3 separate regions of the Homo sapiens genome follow, and regions 1 and 2 are each linked to region 3. The links come from fine-mapping of genetic effects on gene expression. A gene starts in region 3. Each other region holds a variant in brackets. All regions are shown on one strand. Distances are from middle to middle. Region 1 overlaps FOXL1 (forkhead box L1). Region 2 has its middle 33 kb from the start of LINC02189. Region 3 holds the start of LINC02188 (long intergenic non-protein coding RNA 2188).

What was found. PIP is the estimated chance that this variant, and not a neighbour inherited with it, causes the effect. A credible set is the group of variants that fine-mapping cannot tell apart.
Region 1: its variant is the best candidate, but not a certain one, in a credible set for the expression of LINC02188 in tibial nerve (GTEx, PIP 0.55).
Region 2: its variant is the best candidate, but not a certain one, in a credible set for the expression of LINC02188 in atrial appendage (GTEx, PIP 0.79).

What each region holds. Positions count from the first base shown.
Region 1 is chr16:86,579,868-86,585,629 of GRCh38, reverse strand. It overlaps FOXL1 (forkhead box L1), which reads right to left. Exons shown (of 1, transcript NM_005250.3): 1 at 2,152-5,762. Among named protein-coding and RNA genes, the nearest start is that of FOXL1, 4.2 kb to the right of the region's middle. RefSeq lists an enhancer at 5,600-5,762. The variant T/G (reference allele first, on the strand shown) is at 2,259.
Region 2 is chr16:86,685,565-86,692,161 of GRCh38, reverse strand. No RefSeq gene overlaps it. Among named protein-coding and RNA genes, the nearest start is that of LINC02189, 33 kb to the left of the region's middle. The variant C/G (reference allele first, on the strand shown) is at 2,881.
Region 3 is chr16:86,719,260-86,725,856 of GRCh38, reverse strand. It overlaps LINC02188 (long intergenic non-protein coding RNA 2188), which reads right to left and starts at 3,766. Exons shown (of 3, transcript NR_135183.1): 1 at 3,726-3,766. LINC02189 (long intergenic non-protein coding RNA 2189) reads left to right here and starts at 3,898. Exons shown (of 2, transcript NR_135181.1): 1 at 3,898-4,092; 2 at 4,854-5,173.

The DNA.
Region 1 (5,762 bases), 140 kb after region 3:
ATCATTTAATTTATGCCCATTACAGCTCTATGAAGTAGTTACTAATGTTATTTGTACCCATGCCAGGAGTTAAGGGACAAAAGAGTTAGGTCACTGCCAATGTCAACAGCAAGTGAAGGCTCAGCTGCATTATTAGCCTCTGTCTCATGGGCTCCGAGGCCACACTCTTATCCAGGTTAAGGAACCCTCTTCCGGGGCCACCTCACCCTGACTAGATCAATTACTGAGGGGTAAGGAATCAATAAGATGCAATTACAGCAATTGTTCCCATTGTTGGGTGTGTTGGAGTGGACCTGGAAGAGGTGGATAGGAGATGGTGACCAGCTACCTGGGAGAGATGAGAAGCCGAGAGATGAGAAGCCAAGAGCTCTGGGTGGCGTGAGGTTCATAATACTTTCCGCTGCACATTGCAAAGGCATGAGCTGTTCCTTAAAGTTCATGCTGTCGAAGTCCATGTGACCTCGCAAACTCCAGGGTGTTGTTCCTCACCCTTCCAAGTGGGCTTAACACGGACACTGCCCTGGGGTGGAGACCCTTTTATCGTCCCAACTTCTTCTGGATTGGGCTTGAGGATGCCCTCACCAACATGTGGTCCACACATTCTAAAAGGGCAGGACAGCGTCAGCCACACAACCCAGTGAAGGCTGAGCCCTGTGGCTCACCCCTGTAATCCCAGTGCTTTGGGAGGCTGAGGTGGGAGAGTCACTTGAGGTCAAGAGTTCGAGACCAGCCTGGGCAACATGCCAGACCCCTCTCTGCAAACATAAAAATTTGTGAAATAAGCCAAGTGTAATAGTGTGCACGTATGGTCCCAGCTACTCAGGAGGCTGAGGCAGGAGGCTGGCTTGAGCCCAGGAGTTTGAGGCTAGTGAGCTATGACTACAACACTGCATGGCAATCCAGCCTGGGCAACAGAGTAAGACTCAGCCTCAAAAAAAAAAAAAAAAAAGAAAAAAGAAAAAAGAAAAGAAAAGAAAAAGAAAAACCATTACTACTGTGCACAGTCAAAGGCAGTCCAGCAACTTCTCAGACTCCAAGACATCCAGGCAGAGATGCATGGCCAGGGCAGGCCCTCTCTGGAACTCAGTTGAAGCCGAGGCCCTGCCCACCTAAGAGGGACCCAGATTAGTATCTACAGCCTGCTTCTCTTGGAAGCTTGCCAGATGGGAGATTCCAATCTTCTGGAATTCCAGATGCAGCCATAGGCATTGTCTGGGACATCCCAGCCTTGGCTTTTGTACATCAAGGTGTGGTCAGGGCAGCGGCAACTTCCTGGTCCCCGCAGAAGGACCCCCAGTGTGCTGGTCACAGTCAGCTTGCCCAGCCCTTCCCTGGTCCACTCGCAGCCCCTCTTCACCTCCTCTGCAGGTTGACCCCTATGGACAGCATTACCTGGGCTACCTTGCAGGCTGGGTTTCTTGCAGGTTTCAGCCCATCGGAAGCATCAGATGAGGCTGGAAGGCGGAAGAGGAGAGGTGGGATATTTCCCTTCCCTCCTGTCTGCTCCAGCACTGTGGCTCCTTTCCACTCCAGCTCTGAAGGTGGTACCTGCTGCAGGCTGAGGGGGCAGAGGCAGGATGGAGCTGTTCTCACCCTTGCTAATCACTGGCGGTTTCGTTCATCCAGCCCACTCCTCCATAAATAGTCCTTCCACCCTGATCCTTTCCATGGAGCCATCTAAGTGGGTTTCTATTTCCTGCCAGGACGCTGATTCTTGTACCTAATGGAAAAAACAGGTTGGGACCAAATCTTTGTTCCATTGCTTCCCTCCACCCCCACTGCTACTGTAAAGATACCTGAGTTGACTGTGACCCCCCCAGATTTCATTTGCACCCCAAGGTGGAGAGCCTGAGCTTGACTCTACATCTGGCCTATAAGCCACACATTTGATTTGCCTAGTGCAATTGGCATTTGGATGCCATCTGAAGGGACAGAACTTCCCTCACCCCAATTCAGCCCAAGCCCCACCACTGCCCGCTCCAGTGATCAGGCCCCACTCCAGGTCACTGTAAACACCTGTGGCCCCTGCCTAGCCCTGAAGAACTCAGCACTGGGGCCTCTGGATAAGGACCAGCAGAGGAGAGAGCTTGTCATGTGGCTATTCAGGTGTATTTAAAAAACTGCTTTAAATGTGAGTCAAAAGAATCTTACTTTTCCACAAACTCACGCTTTTTATTTTTAATGGACAAACTTTGCTTTTTATCATTTATGTTTTTCATTCTATGAAACAACCTTTATTTCATGGAAACAAGACTCCA[T/G]CCACCATGAAGCCAGGAAGTGCACAAAATCATGGCTCTCCCCTTATTTTCTCACTCCTGGGTGCAGCTGGTTACTGGAAACGTCACCTACCTTTGTGATGTTAACATTAACCTGCCAGGGTCTGGGCAGGCTGGCTCTGGCTTTCAGCTGTAACAATAATTATATGTGGCTAATTCTTTAACATACACACGGGCATACACTCACCACTTTGAGTGAAATGGTGAAGACCACCATTCAAACGGGCACAATTAAATCTGAAAATGGCTAAGAAGGTCCTATTCAGGTTCTCAAAACTCTTATGGTTCACTGGAGGCCCAGGAGGCCGTTTGTTTCTAGAAAAGCCAGCAACTAGATGAGGCCAGGCAGAGCAAGAGTCCTTTGTAAAGTTCTCTGTCCTTGTGAACGGAGGGAAAAGTTCTCAAAGCGGGTGTCTTCCGCGATGTTTAAATAAAATCTGTCAGTTTCACTATACTAACACAGAACAATAAAGTTATCCCTGGTTCATACTACATAGAGAAACAAAACTATTAAAGCTATATAGAAATTATTATCTATTTTTAAAAACTATATAGAAAAACAAAATCTTTCAAATAGTATCAATACTTGGGTTAAAGTGAAAGGACTCAGTACTTGATCTGAGTCTCAGGTATATTCAAAAAAGATACATTTATGAGCATTCATGTACACAGAACAAATACACACACACACCCCTACACATTCATGTATATATATGTATATACATATATATAAACGTGTACATATGTATACACACTTTGTTATCAAACATGTGCCTGCCATATCCTCATTATGATCAGTGCACTCATATGTGTGTGGGTATTTGTTTGTGTGTGTGTGTAATCAGGGCTTGAACCAAAGATCATTTACAGAAGACAGATCTGTTCCCTTTGTTTAGATGAGAGCAGAGAGGTATTCCTTCAGATTGCCTAAGAGTACAATGATAAGCTTGCTTCTGGCTCACCCTAATTATAGCTGAGATTTTGTTTTAATTAAGAGCAGAAACTATTGACCTTATTGAGCCATAATTTTGAGCCAACGATTAAATATGGATCAATAGAACAGCTATTCGGATTGGTAAGACCCAAACCTCCTCTTTTTGGTTCAGGAGGAAGGAATACACATGCAATTATATAGATTACATAAAAACGACCTCAGTATCCACTTGTCTTAGCTTTTCTAAACCAGACAAAAGTTGGGATTAAATAGAATTTCTCTTTATGCATGTATAAACACACAAAGTGGATACATCTGCATTTTTTCTGTGTCATAAAAGTAACATTCGTACAATACTTTTTGGAATAGTAACTTTAAAATACGACCCTTTTAAAACTGCAGTATCAAATTATTTGCTTCTTCAAAACATAGCCATCACAAATTAACAAAACCTCCCAAGATAACATACAAACACAAAAAAGAAAAAGGAAAGATTAAAAACCGATTCAATACGGCAGAATTAACTCATCGTGCTTTCTGATATGGAGGCAGCTTCCTGGGCCCGGCATCCTCTCCACTCCTTCCCCTCCATCTGTGTGTTTACCCCTCAGAAGCCAGAGCCTCCTGAGATGCTAACACGACTCCCAGATATAATCCCAGTCTCCTCTTTCTTATTACACTGTTTGTTTATTTCCCTCCAGTAATCCACTGAACCAGTCACTGAGAGGTTAATGAAAAAACAACTTTATTCACAGAGGCTGAGAGTTTGGGATAGCAAAATATCCAGTGACAGCCCTTTCGCTACATTTTCAGTGAATCACAGTGAGCCTGGATCTCAGCAATGGCTCCTCCTGGAAGTTCTTCCAATCAAGGCTGGCCTGAAGTTTCCCAGAGTCTTCCCACTGGCCTGGGTAGAACCCAGTCGTGGAAGCCTGGTTCAGCATGGATAGGAGAATGAATTTTCCAAAAGTCACCTCTATGCCTGTGAATTATCCAATTACTCTGCCGGCCTGAAATGTCCTTTCCAACACATTGACCAACAGGCCCTCTGGATTCAAAGTTTGTCATCATTTTTAGACAAGTCCTGGAAACTATTTTAAAAGCGATCTTAAAGACCTCCCTCCCAACCTATTTCCAATAGTGCGTGACTACTTGTGTCTTTATCACATGACATAAAATAAAAGTGACTTAGAGGTTCAGAAAATTGCATTTCAGGGCCTCGAAGATTACCCAGCTAGAGATGGCATAGAGGTCGGTTGCATTTCCCCGGAAGCTGCAAGCTGAACTTGGTTGTGAACATCTCAATGTTCTTAATTAGATTTTCGTTGCAGACCTCTTCTCCCCTCCCCAGACTGCCAGTCACCTCTTTAAGGTTTTGATTTAGTATCAGCCTCCAGGCCTGCCTGGCAGGGCTGGGAGGGAAGAGCGGGCGGCTGCAGGGGGTGCGGGGGCCAGGAGTGTCTGGGAGATTCCTGCCATCAAACCTCAGGTCCTCTGGGGCCCAGAGAGGCCCCTTCCAGCGGACACCAGCACGTCCCCTTATTCTTCCCCCGCATTCATCCCTCTCTCTCTCTGCATCTGCTTTTGGTTGTTTCACCCAACTTTTTAAATTAAATGTAGTCTTTCATTATCTGTTTCTGAAAAATATAGCGACCACCAAGCCTGGATCTTGAAAAAACATGGAAATCAAAACTCTGACATTGTCCAAGGCATATCCCCTTCCCCTCACACCCTTCCTCATGGTATCCCTTGAAATATTTTGATCCCTTAAAAACAAAAGCAAAAGGATAGGACGTCTGCTGTTGTGGCTTACATAGCTGCATGTGTATTGGCTAATGAGCTATCGTAATGCAAGAAGATGTTATATAGAGTGCACTTTCTTAATAAAAATTGTTAATACAAGCGTTTTCAAAGGTCAATGCTTAGAGTCAAGTATTTATGCAAAGAATGAAACATGTTCTTTTTACTACCCAGAAAGAAATTAAGAGAAAAAGTCTCTGTTTAAAATAAAAGTGTTATTGCTCTGGGTGGTTATCAGCTTCTATAGCTGAACATTGGTCATAAATCCTCATCGGGCCCTACATCTCTCAGAAAACCTGAAAACCCGGGGTCACCCCCGGCACCTCCACAACTTCAAGTCAGGAACAAACCCAGCTGTGACCACCCACCACCCAGATGGGCTCAAAACCAAGGCCTGAGCCACACGGCAACAGCGAAGCAGGCGACGGTCATACGGGGGTCCCCGGTCGAAAGGACCTCAACTGCACCTGTAAGGCCTGCCTTGGGTGGTCTGCGGGCCCTTGCATGCCCGGGACTCGCAGGACCTGCGGTGGGCGGCTGAAGACCACACTCCATTAGACAGGTCAAACGTCAAGGAATCTCCCGCGGTGGAGGTCCCTGCAGGGCCCACGTGCGGTGCCCACGACCCCGCGGGGATCTTTTAAGTCTCCGTAGCTGCTCCCAGTTGCTGGGAAAAGTTTGCTTCGGAGAAGGCAGGCGAGCGCGCCCACCTGCGCGCAATGGTTGGTAACACTTCCCTGAACCCACAGGCC
Region 2 (6,597 bases), 34 kb after region 3:
ACTGTGCTTCCTGAACTAATGGTCTCTGAATGCATTCCCAACTGTGGCTTCCTGGTCTACCGAGGTCCCCAGCACGAGGTCCCTGGCATTAAAGGAGAAGAAGGAAAAAAGTAACACAGCAGATGCTTATAGGAGTTGCCAGGACTGGATGGGTTGAAACTGAAAGGAAATACATGTGGGTGAGAGTGTTACGTTGTTTCGACAATTTTTATAAGAAATGCTTCCCCAGGTAGTGCTTTAAAAACAAAGTTACAATCACACAGGACACACATGTGGGGTGTAGCTTCTGCTAGATGGAAAGCAGATTGCTTGAATTAGCACTGGAAGACCTTAACTACAGAACCTGATGACTCTCTTCTAATTGACAGATTTGCTTTAAGATTCACAACTTGAATTGGAAAAAACATCTGTGTTATTGAGATTACAGTGGGAGCACTAAGAAAGCCCAGAATTGACTTGGGAACTTCCCAATGGCCAGCTGATATGTTCAGATTGGAGCCCTGGACTTGGAGTTGCCAGATTCTAGGGTGAGAAATGGCATGTTCACGTCCTAGCCTTGTAAACCTCAGCTCATTACTTCCCTGCTTTGCCTCTGTATCCTGATCTCCAAAATGAAGGGGCTAGGTGAGACCAGGGGAACTTTCCTCCAACAAATCGAATTCCTCTCACCTGAGCAAGTAGGGAGGGAGGGAGGGAGGCTACCAGAACCCCCACCATGAAGATTCTCACCCTGCCCTCTCCCTGCCTTCCAGGGATCCCTGGCATGGTCTAGTTTGGTTACTATTGCTACGTAACCAATTACCCCAGAAATCAGTGCTATCAAACGATTGCCCTTTTACTTTGTTTACGATTTGGTGGGCTGGGATTTAGAGAGGGATTGACTGGGCAATCATCACTTGGAGTCTCTCAAGAGAGTGCAGCCAGGTGTTGGCTTGGACTGCAGGCAGCTGGAGGCTTGACAGGCCGCATGTGTGTCCAAGGTGTCTTGCTCACGTGGCTGGTGTTGATGCAGGGGCTGTCAGCCAATGCATCCACATGTGGCCTCTCCAGCATGGCGGTCTCAGGGTTGTCAGATTTCTTACTTGGTGGCTGGCTTCCTCCAGAGCAAGAGTTTCCAGAGAACCAGGTGGAAGACATGTGGCCCATGTGACCTAGTCACAGGAGTCACACAGCCTTACTTTCACCACATTCTATCGATGGTCAAAGGGCCACCAAATTCAACCACAGGGAACACAGATCTCCCTCTCAGTAACAGGTGAGGCAAGACCATGTTGTGGGAGAGCCTACAGGCATCAGGGTATGATTGCGGACATCTTTGCAAATCATAGTCCACCTCAGGTTCCAAGAAACACAGTTGGAAAACAACGAGGTTAGACGGTCTCTAACGTCTCTTTCTGTTAGAAAAGCAAAAAACTCTAAAAGGGCAACATTTACTTGTCCAGACTCTTTCTTTTTTAAAGAGCTTTACTCCTTTGGGAGGCCGAGGTGGGCGGATCACGAGGTCAGGAGATTGAGACCATCCTGGCTAACACAGTGAAACCCTGTGTCTACTAAAAATACAAAAAATTAGCCTGGCGCAGTGGCGGGCGCCTGTAGTCCCAGCTACTAGGGAGGCTGAGGCAGGAGAATGGCATGAATCCAGGAGGTGGAGCTTGCAGTGAGTCGAGATCGCGTCACTGCACTCCAGCCTGGGCAAGAGAGCGAGACTCCATCTTAAAATAAATAAATAAATAAATAAATAATAAATAAATAAATTAATTAAATAAATAAATAAATAAAAATAAAGAGCTTTACTGGAGTGTGCAGGCCTCCCTTGTTTTATTATGCATTTAAGTGCTTTACTGTCTGTGTTTCTTACAAACTGAGGGTTTGTGGAGACCTTGCATGGAGCAAGTCTATCAGCGCCATTTTCCCAACAGTACGTGCTTATGTCATGGCTCTGTCACATTTGAGTAATTCTCACAGTATTTCAAACCGTTTCATTATGATTACTTCTGTTATGGTGATCTGCGATCGGTGAGCTTCGTCACTATTGTAATTGTTCTGGGGCACCATGAACCATGCCCCTATAAGACAGTGAACTTAATCAATAAATGGCTTGTGTGTTCTAACTGTATCACTGGCTCTTCCCCCATCTCTCTCCCTATCCTTGGGCCTCTCTATTCACTGCAACATAATAATATTGAAATTAGGTCAAGGAATCATCCTACAGTGGCCTGTAAGTGTTTGAGTGAAAGGAAGAGTCACAGGTCTCACTTTACACCGAGAGCTGAAACGATTAAGCTTAGTGAGGAAGCCATGTCAGAAGCCAAGGTACGCTGAAACTAGGCCTCTTGCACCAAACAGTTGGTCAAGTTGTGCATGCAAAGTAAAAGCTTTTGAAGGAAATTAAAAGTGCTACTCCAGTGAACACATGAATGATAAAAAAGTGAAATAGCCTTACTGCTGATATGGTGAAAGGTTTACGGTCTGAATAAAAGATCAAACTAACTACAACATTGCCTTGAGCCAAAGCCTAATCTGGAGCAAGGCCCTAACTCTCTTCAATTCTGTGAAGGCTGGTGACGTTCAGTGTTTTTTCATGTGCTTATTTACCATCGGTGTAATCTCTTCAGTGAAATGTTTCGTCATGTCTTTTGCCTAATTGGATCGTTTGGTTTAACTGAGTCTTGACAGTTCTTTATATATTCTGGATACTAGTCCTTTTTCAGATATGTTGTTTGCAAATATTTTCTCTCACTCTGTGGATCTTCTTTTTATCCTTAGAAAAGTATCTTTCAAGAGCAAAAGTTTTTAATTCTGATGCAGTTGAATTTATCAATCTTTTTCTTTTGTGGATTGTGCTATTGGTGTTAAGTCTTAAGACCTTTTTGCCTAGGC[C/G]TATATTCCTAAGACATTTTTCCCGAAAGTTTCATAGTTTTGTATTTTACATTTAAGTTCATTATACATTTTGAATTGATTTTTGTATAAGATGTGAACCTTACATAGATGTTGATTTTATTGCCTATGTGCTATTCTCTGGCACTGTTTGTTGAAAAGTCTCTTTTTTTCTCCATTGAATTGCATCTTTGTTAAAAATCAGTTGGGCATATTGGTGTGGTTCTATTTCTGAGTCTCTATTCTGTTCCACTGACATATGTCTATCCTTCCACCATTATCACTGCCTTCTTGATTACTGTAGCTATGTAGTCACCCTTGACATTGGGGAGACTGATTCTTCTCACTTTATTCTTCTTTTTTTCAAAATTATTTGAACTTACCTAGTTTCTTTCCATTTTCAAATAAATTTTAGAATAACCCTGTCCATCTGTTAAAAAATTCTGCCGTTATTTTGATATTAATTGCATTAAACTTGTATATCAATTTGAAGAGAATTGACCTCTTTACTATGTTGAGTCTTTCAATCCCTGAATGCAGTATATCACTCCATTTATTAAGACCTTCTTTGATTTCCTTCATCAACATTGTATATTTTTCAGCATACAAGGTATGTGTTTTGTTACGTTTACTACATCGTTTGAGCAATTATAAGTGGAATTGTATTTTTAATTTTGGTGTTTATTATTCTGGCTAGAACCTATAGCACTACACTGAATAAGAGTAGGGAGAGTGGACATTCTTGCTGTGTTCTCAATCTTAGGGGGAAAACATTTAGTCTTCCACAACTAAGTATAATGTTATCTGTAGCTTTTTGTAGTTGCATTTTGTCAAGTCAGGAAGTTTCTCCCCTATTTCTATTTTTCTGAGCTTTTTTTAAAATCACAAACGGATGTTGAATTTTATCAATGCTGTTTTTTGCATTGATTAATGTGAATATGTGATTTTTCTTCTTTAACTTGTCAGTAGGGTGGATTATGTTCAATACTCATAATTTTTGAGTATTGAAACATGCCTGCATCCTTGGAATTAATCCTACTTGGTTATGGTGTATAATTCTTCTTATATATTACTGAATTCTGTTTGCCGATATATACTCAAGAATGTTTGCCTCTACATTCACGGGGAATATTAGACTAAAATTTTATTGCCTTTGTCTGGTTTCTGTATTAGTGTAATACTAGCTTCACAGAATGAACTGCAAAGTATCCCCATCTCATGTATTTCTCAGAAGAGACTGTATAAAATTGGTGTTAATTCTTGTTTAAACATTTGGTAGAATTCTCCAGTAAAGCCATATGAACAAGATTTCTTTTGTGGTAATTTAAAAATTATTAATTTAATTTTTAAAGTACTTATAGGACTATTGAAATTATCTATTTCATACTGGGTGAGTTGTGACTGTGTTTTTCAAAATGAGGGGGATGTCCTTCTATTCCTTGTTTTCTCAGACTTTTTTAAATTAGGAATGAATGTTGGGTTTTGTCAGATGCTTTTCCTGCCACTATTAGATTATCATGATTTTCTTTTTTCTCTCTTTTCTTTTTTCTTTTCTTTTCTTTTCTTTTCTTTCTTTCTTTTTTCTTTCATGGAGTGTCACTCTGTCGCCCAGGCTGGAGTGCAGTGGAACAATCTCGGTTCACTGCAACCTCCGCCTCCCTAGTTCAAGTGATTCTTCTGCTCAGCCTCCCAAGTAGCTGGGATTACAGGCATGTGCCACCACGCCCAGCTAATTTTTGTATTTTTAGTAGAGACAGGGTTTCACCATGTTGGCCAGGCTGGTCTCAAACTCCTGACCTCAAGTGATCCGCCTGCCTCGGCCTCCCAAAGTGCTGGGATTCAGGCATGAGCCACCGCACCCAGCCATGATTTTCTTGTTTAGTTTGTCACGATGATGAATTACATTGATTGATTTTCAAATAAACTAATCTTGCATTCTTGGGACTCACTTACATGTGATGCATTATCCTTTGTTGGGTTTGATTTCCTAAAATTTTATTTAGAATTGTTGCTTCTTTGTTCATGAGGAATATGGCCCTGTGGTTTTCTTGTCTTGTAATTGCTTTGTCTGACTTTGGTATTAGGATAATGCTGACCTCATTAAATGAATGAGAAAGTGCTCTCCCCTTTTTGGTTTTCTGGAAAAGTTTATGTAAACTTGGAATCGTTAGTCTCCTTAAAGCCTGGGTAGAATTCATCAGTGAAGCCATATGGACCTGGAGTGTTCTTGGTGAGAAGGTTTCTAACTACAAATATAGTTACTTTCATAGATAGGACTGTTCAGGTTATCCATTTTTTCATGAGTTAACTTAGTAGTTTGTGCCTTTCAAGCAATTTGTCCACTTTCCCCAAGTTGTCTGTAAGATCTGCAGTGATGTCAAGAATCTCGGGCCGGGCGCGGTGGCTCACGCCTGTAATCCCAGCACTTTGGGAGGCCGAGGCGGGCGGATCACGAGGTCAGGAGATCGAGACCATCCCGGCTAAAACGGTGAAACCCCGTCTCTACTAAAAATACAAAAAATTAGCCGGGCGTAGTGGCGGGCGCCTGTAGTCCCAGCTACTTGGGAGGCTGAGGCAGGAGAATGGCATGAACCCGGGAGGCGGAGCTTGCAGTGAGCCGAGATCCCGCCACTGCACTCCAGCCTGGGCGACAGAGCGAGACTCCGTCTCAAAAAAAAAAAAAAAAAAAAAAAAAGAATCTCATCCCTGGCCAGGCTTGGTGGCTCATGCCTGTAATCCCAGCACTTAGGGAGGCCGAGGCGGGCGGATCACAAGGTCAGGAGATCGAGACCATCCTGGCCAACATGGTGAAACCCTGTGTCTACTAAAAATACAAAAAATTAGCTGGGCATGGTGGCATGTGCCTTTAGTCCCAGCTACTTGGGAGGCTGAGGTCAGAGAATCGCTTGAACCTGGGAGGCGGAGGTTGCAGTGAGTCGAGATCACGCCACTGCACTCCACCCTGGCGATGGAGCGAGACTCCGTTAAAAAAAAAAAGAAAAGAAAAGAAAAAAAAACTCTTCCCTAATAATTGGTAATTTGTGCCTTTTCTCCCCTTTCCTGATCAACCTGGTTAGATGTTTATCCATTGTATTGATCTTCTCAAAGAAGCAACTTTTGGGTTCATTGTTTTTTTGTTTGTTTGTTTGTTTTTGTTTTGTTTTTTGAGAGGGAGTCTCACTCTGTTGCCTAGGCTGGAGTGCAATGGTGCGACCTTAGCTCACTGCAATCTCTGCTTCCCCGGTTCAAGCGATTCTCCTTCCCCAGCCTCCCAAGTAGCTGGAATTACAGGTGCCTGCCACCACGCCCGGCTATTTTGTTTGTTTGTTTGTTTTTGTATTTTTAGTAGAGACAGGCTTTCACCACGTTGGCCAGGCTGGTCTCAAACTCCTGACCTCAAGCGATCCGCCTGCCTCAGCCTCCCAAAGTGCTGGGATTACAGGAGTGAGCCACTACACCTGGCCCATTGGTTTTGTCTAGTGTGTTCTTGGTCAGAATCTCCCTGGAAACAAAGGACACTCGCTCTTCCTCCTTTCCTCTTGTCTAAGGAATTCTCTAAGAGAACTAGCTCACTTGAACCTTGTCGAAGGCTAACCTTCAAAATAAATCCACCTACCAACTCTTGTTTTTCTCAAAACTCTCAGCCAAGTACCACAGTTTCATGTCACAAATAATTTTTTCGAAGGTGCAGCATTCTGATCACATTCTGCAGAGAAAACG
Region 3 (6,597 bases):
AGCTCTTTTAGGCAATGTTAAGACTTCTCCTAGCTCTAACAATACGCAAGCCCAAAGAGGGCTGTGCACATTATGGCCTTTGTTTTCCAGATTCGAATGTGCCCCCCAGATCTCCACGCCGTGCAATTTCTCGGACAAACCAACTCACGTCTTCTTATTGGTCCCATGCACCCGTGGGATCAGCAGATGTAACATTCTGACATCACACTTAGAAAACTTCCCCCATCTGGATTTCTGCAACCCACAGGGAGTCATTTGCCAAACATATGTTTTACAAAACATGGGCCCACTGCACTCTGACTGGTTGTGGAGTCGATACAACCCACCTTTTCCCCAAGCACATGACTCTGGCCCATGCATGCTGTCTGGCTGGGGAGAGAGATGCAAGACTACTCATGTCAGGAGCGCAGGGTGGCAGGAAACGTGCAAGGTCACACATTGCTAAAAATGTAGGCGAGTAACGTGGTGGTAACAGACACACAACGGGGGTCAGTGTACAGTGGAGAAGAATTCTAGTGTCAGGCCAACTATTGCTGTCAGGAAGAGCATTGAGAAGCGTTTCCACATATCACCGCTCACTTTTCCAGATGACATTCAAGAGAGGAAGAGGCAGCGGACATCACTGGCCAGTGAAGTTAGGAGGCTTCGGAGGCTCCAGAGTCATGACAGATGTTTTGAACCTTGTAGCCAAACCCCTCCACGCAGAAGTTAAAATGCCCACTTTCTCTGGAGCACAACTTTTTAAAAAATTGTTTTTTTTTTATATTGTAGTAAAATATACGTAACAAAATTTACCACAATAACCACTTTCAAGCGTGTAGTTCTGTGGTGTTGACTGTATTCATACTATTGTACAACCATCACCACCATCCACCTCCAGAACTTTTTCATCTTCCTAAGCTGAAACGCTGTCCCCACTAAATTATAACTCCCCATCTCCACCCCATAAGTCCCTGGCAATCACCCTTCTACTATCTTTTTCTTTTTGTTTTTCTTTTTTTTTTTTTTTTTTTTTTGAGATGAAGTTTTACTCTTGTTGCCCAGGCTGGAGTGCAATGGCACGATCTTGGCTCACTGCAACCTCTGCCTCCTGGGTTCAAACAGTTCTCCTGTCTCAGCCTCCTGAGTAACTGGGATGACTGGCGCATGCCACCACGCCCAGCTAATTTTTGTATTTTTAATAGAGACGAGGTTTCATCATGTTGGCCTGGCTGGTCTCAAACTTCTGACCACAGGAGATCCACCTGCCTCGGCCTCCCAAAGGGCTGGGATTACAGGCGTGAGCCGCTGCGTCCGGTGCCTTCTACTTTCCGTCTCTATGATTCTGCCTACTCTAGGTGCTTTATCAAAGTGGAATCACACAGTGTTTGTCTTTGGTGACTGTCTCTTTTGCAGAATGTCCCCAAGCTTCATCCATGTTGTAGCAGGTGCCCACCCTTCATTCCTTGTTAAAGCTGAATAATCCTCCATTACTTGGATGCACCATTTTCTTTCTTCATTCATTCACTGATGGACACGTGGGTTGCTTCCACCTTTTGGCTATTGTCAATAATGCTGCAGCGATTCCCAGGCTGGCTGAGTAATTGGTAGTCTACAAAGCTGCTTGGCACAGCGTCCCCAATCTATAGAGAGTAGTTGTGGGTTCAAAGAAAACCCACAAGACTTTAGAGCCAAAATACATCTGGTTTCCAATGTTTGACTGGCCAGCTGCAACTTTAGGCAAATTTAATCCTCCTGAGCCTCACGCTGCTCATCACCAAACTGGGAATTACAGTAGACAGCACTGGTCGCTGTCCCAGCATCCACACTACCTCCTACATCCTAAGCGAATTCTGATTTCTTTTTTCAACTTTCTTCCACGCCCAGGTGATCTCAAGGGGCTGAGACATTCATAGTTCCAGGGATGGGGCAAGTCCCGCCCCCTTGGCAATGATTGGTTCAGACACCCAGGCTTCAGCTAATCGGTTTCTAGCAGTGCCTTAGCAACTGTTGCTAGTGTTAAGCCCTTGATCTGAGTGGCCCAATCAGGTAGAGGATGGGCTTTTATTCCAAGTTGGAGAAATGACGCTCCTCGGAGCTAGGAAATGAACAAGAGTTTCTGCAGCTGCTGATGCTGCCACCATCCCGCAACAACGAGGGAAAGAGCATGAGAACGAAGCCCAGGCACAGAAGAAAGGCAGCCATAAAAGTGTCAGAAAAACGGAGCCGGAGCCTGATTATCCTCCTCATCTTGGTACACACTCACACTCACACACTCCCTATGTCTGCGGACTGACAGTCAGAATATTCAAGCAAAACAGATCTCCTTAAATGGCAGTGACCTTACCTGAAATTTAACAGGCCTGAATTTACCGGTCTAAGGTCAACCAGGAAGGCTGTGTGCCTTCAAGCCCACCACTCAAAGACGCCAACCAATTCACCTGTCTCCTGTATGATTCTGGGTTCACACACATGGGTGCACAGACTCCCCCGAACACACACACACACACACACACACACACACGCACCTGCACGCATGCACACACACAATTAGGTTCAGAAATTAAACCTCAAAGTAATAGTAGGCCTCAATTATCCTACATAGCTGTGAAACAGATAGCCTGTTAGCTAGTCACTGGAGTACTGCTTGAAATAGAGATTTATTGCACAAAAAGCAGCACATACAAAAGTTTCTATGATCAGTATTACGGCTGATTGTGAAATAAGACATCATTGGAAGTGCACCAAAAATGAATAATGCAGGGACTGAACAGAGAAGCTGAGTGAAGAGAAGCCAGATAAAGAAGGAACACATATTTTTTCAGCCCACAGCTTCACCCATTTTCAGCGAAGCAAGGATTTCCCTTAGGGTGAAGGGAGAATCCTAGGTCTTTCTATTCCATTTCCGGGCATGACCAGACACCAAAATCATGACAGAGTAAGCTTGAAAAGAAAGACTTCGTGAAGACTGTTGGTCAAGACACAACCGGGGAACAGAAACATCTCGGCATGTACAGGAGAAGGAGTTTAATCCAGGAAGGAGATTGTGGCAGGTGGAGGGTCAGAAAAGCCACTGCAGTGTCAAACCACACACAGCGAATTATTCATTCAGATCTCATGACAAGAAAACTTGGTGTCTTTGTCTACCTGGGCTGCTGTAACAAAATATCATCCACTGGGCAGCCCATGCACAACAGAGATTTATCTCTGACGGTTCTGGAGGCTGGGGTGTCCAAGATCAAGGCCCTGGCCACTTCAGTGTCTGGTGAAGGTCACTTCCTGACTCATAGATGGCACCTTCTCGAGAGTCCATATATGCTGGAAGGGGCAAGGGGCCTCTCTGGGGCGTTTTTTATTATTTTATTTTTATTTATTTAATTTTTTGAGATGGGGTTTCAGTCTTATTGCCCTGGTTGGAGTGCAATGGCATGGTCTCCACTCACTGCAATCTCTGCCTCCCGGGTTCAAGCGATTTTCCTGCCTCCGCCTCCCAAGTAGCTGGGATTACAGGCGCCCGCCACCATGCCCGGCTCATTTCTGGATTTTTAGTAGAGATGGGGTTTCATCATGTTGGTCAGACTGGTCTAAAACTCCTGACCTCAGGTGATCCGCCCACATTGGCTTCCCAAAGTGCTGGGATTACAGGTGTGAGCCACCGTGCCCGGGCTTGGGGCTCTTTCATAAGGGCACTATTCCCATGCATGAGGGTTCTACCTCACAAACCACTCACCTCCCGAAGACCTCACCTTTTGATAGCATCACATTGTAGGTGAGAATTTCAATATTCAAATTTGAGGGAGACACACACATTTGGACCATAGCACACAGTTGGGTCATAAAGCCAGGGTTCCGAGGCAAGTCTGAGGTCATCAGCCAAGGGTGTCTGCATCGGACAACACTCAACTCGGGATTGGCACCCAGCCAGTGCCCTACACTATACAAGATGCCACTGTAGGGACAGGGATGACCTCTAGCAAGGTGACCCTCAGTGGGCCAGAGGGGGCTTCTGAAGAGAATTTCTCTAGCTTCTTGGTGTTTCCTGCCTGCTACTTTCAAACAAGGGTCCCATTTTTAATGTTTTCCCAGTAATACCTTATGAATGTTATTGCAAAGGTAAAGGAAATTATATTTTTGCTCTTATTGTTGTTCACTCTACTCCCATTTAGCAATTAACATTGAAAGGTAAGAAAACCAAGAGAAAGAGAGAGATTGCAATGTGGATATAGACGCAGATGTATAGAAATATATACATAGTAGAAATAAAAAAGGGTTGGCTATGGAGAAGGATACACAGATAGAGATAGCAAGACAGTTGGATAGACAGACAGGTTTTTTTTTTTTCTTAATAATAGGAACCAGAGGATGATCAGGAGGGTGAGGAAAAGAAAAAGATGAAAGCCCTGTCTAAGATGCCCACAAGTTCTCTAGTTTGCATTTGTTCCCTTGGTGAGCAGAAGGGTGCAAGTCCTCTCTTACTGTGATGTGAGGAACCTATATCATCCCAGGGCACAAGAGGGTGAAGTTGGCCATCTGTGCCCTTCTCTGCCTTGTACCCTAGGCACGCCCCTCCTGTAGATCCCAGTTTCTCTTTCTGCCAAAAAGGGGGCAGACCTGGTGAGTAGCTAAAGTTCCTTCCGGCCTGAAGGCCCCTCAAAGGTTTTCTCCTGTGCCTTCCCCACAGCCCGGGTCTGCACTCTACTGGGATTTGCTGGGCTAGATTCTCAGAGGAGCTCAACATTGATTGAGTTCCTCGCTCCACGTTAAATCTTTGGAAAATTAACTAAAGATCTCCTAGTAAGATGCTTGTAACTTACTACATAAGGTGAAATAGTGACTTTACAGTACAAAAACTATAACCCAAGTATTACCACCAGCAGCGGGCTAAATCAACACCACAGGCCCCGTGATCAATATATGTGATGAGGACATTACATCCTGGTGTTGTTGCCCCAAGTCTTGACGTGAATCTGACCACAAGGACAATTCGGACAACCTGAAATGGTGACGCATTCTACAAAATAAACATCAATGTCATGAAAGACAAAGACTCAAGATTTTCTGCTTAATGGAGACTAAAGAGATGCGACAACAGAATGCCAGGCATGATCTTGGATATTCTTTTGGCTCAAACAGTCTTAGGACAATTGAAAAAACGTGAATGAGGTCTGTAGCTAATAGAATTGTGTCAATGCCACATCCTTGGTTTTGTTAATTGCATTGTGGTTACAGAAGAGAATCCCTTTGTTTTCAGGAAATGCACACAGCAGTATTTAATAGTAAAGGCACATCTTGTCTGCAACTTCCTCTCTGTGTGTGTGTGTGTGTGTGTGTGAGAGAGAGAGAGAGAGAGAGATGCAACAAATATGGTAAATATTAATTTTGGGGACTCTGGGTGAAGGGTATCTTGAGATTTTTGTGCTCCTCTTCTGCACATCTGAAATCATGTCAAAAAATAAAAAAGGTGTGCACTCTGCAAGGGATACCCAGATACCCATGCAGAAGAGAGAACTGATTCAAGAGATGAACCCAGGTGGGAGCCACGATGATGCCCACTGGGGAATGAGCCTGTAAATCCAGGAGAGGCTGCACCTGCAGCCCATTCCTCCAGGGTGGTTCTCCTAGACCTGCTTCAAGTGTCATGGTTTAAATTCTCAGGCACCCCTTGGGCCATACTGACATTTCTATTGGCTTTGGGCTAGGAGGAGCTAATATGCCTTGCACATGATGATAGCTTGGAGAATGTAAAAATGCTGAGCTGTTATCACACCTAATGACATGATACCTGCAAAGACGTAGTGTGTGCATGGAACAGCGTAATGGAGTCCTACAGCCTTAAGCCAGGATTTCATGTGTGATACACAGTAGTCATGGCTGAAATCTTTCTCCAGTGTGGCTGCTCCCTCCTCATTGAACACAAAGCAAGTTATACAATTCAGTTTTAGCAAATGTCTTGTGAGATGCGCTAGCACAATCTTAAAGATCATGTGTGGGTAAAAAGAACAACCTCCACCCATACCAAGCATTTTCAGTGCCAGGCCCTACCTGAAACACAACCGTGATCTCCATTTGAGCCAGGAAAACCCGAACCATGGGGAGCCGCAGAGCCCGCCCCCCACCCAGTGACTCTCCGGTGTGTCAGTGCCAGGGTCTGAAGGTACTGAGGCTTTGCAGGCATCATCTCAAGCCAGCAGGGTCTGAAGCTACTGAGGATCTGCCAGCAACATCTCAAGACGGCATGGTAGCTCCTTCCCAGCACGCCACGCTGCCCTGCACCCACTGCTAGCTTCTGTCTATACTGCACTTGGCACTGAGAGCAATCCGATCAGAGGCAGCATGCGATTGCTTTGTTCCATTTTCCCAAGGCCCACTCACAGGGCCTGTAGGTACCTGCACGGTCCAGGTCCAGGTCCGTCATTGTTCAATCGAGCCACCATGAATTGGAACAACTGCATCTTTCAATCGCGTCCTCCAATTTGCCCAGAGCCATCCGAGCACAGATTCAGAACTGGATCTTTGCCTCTCTCAACAAAGTACACTAGGGGACTGAAGCATCCAACTCAAGTGTAGTGTTTTAAATAAGGAAGAAGAACTTAAATTCACCCACTGACCCATTTCCAC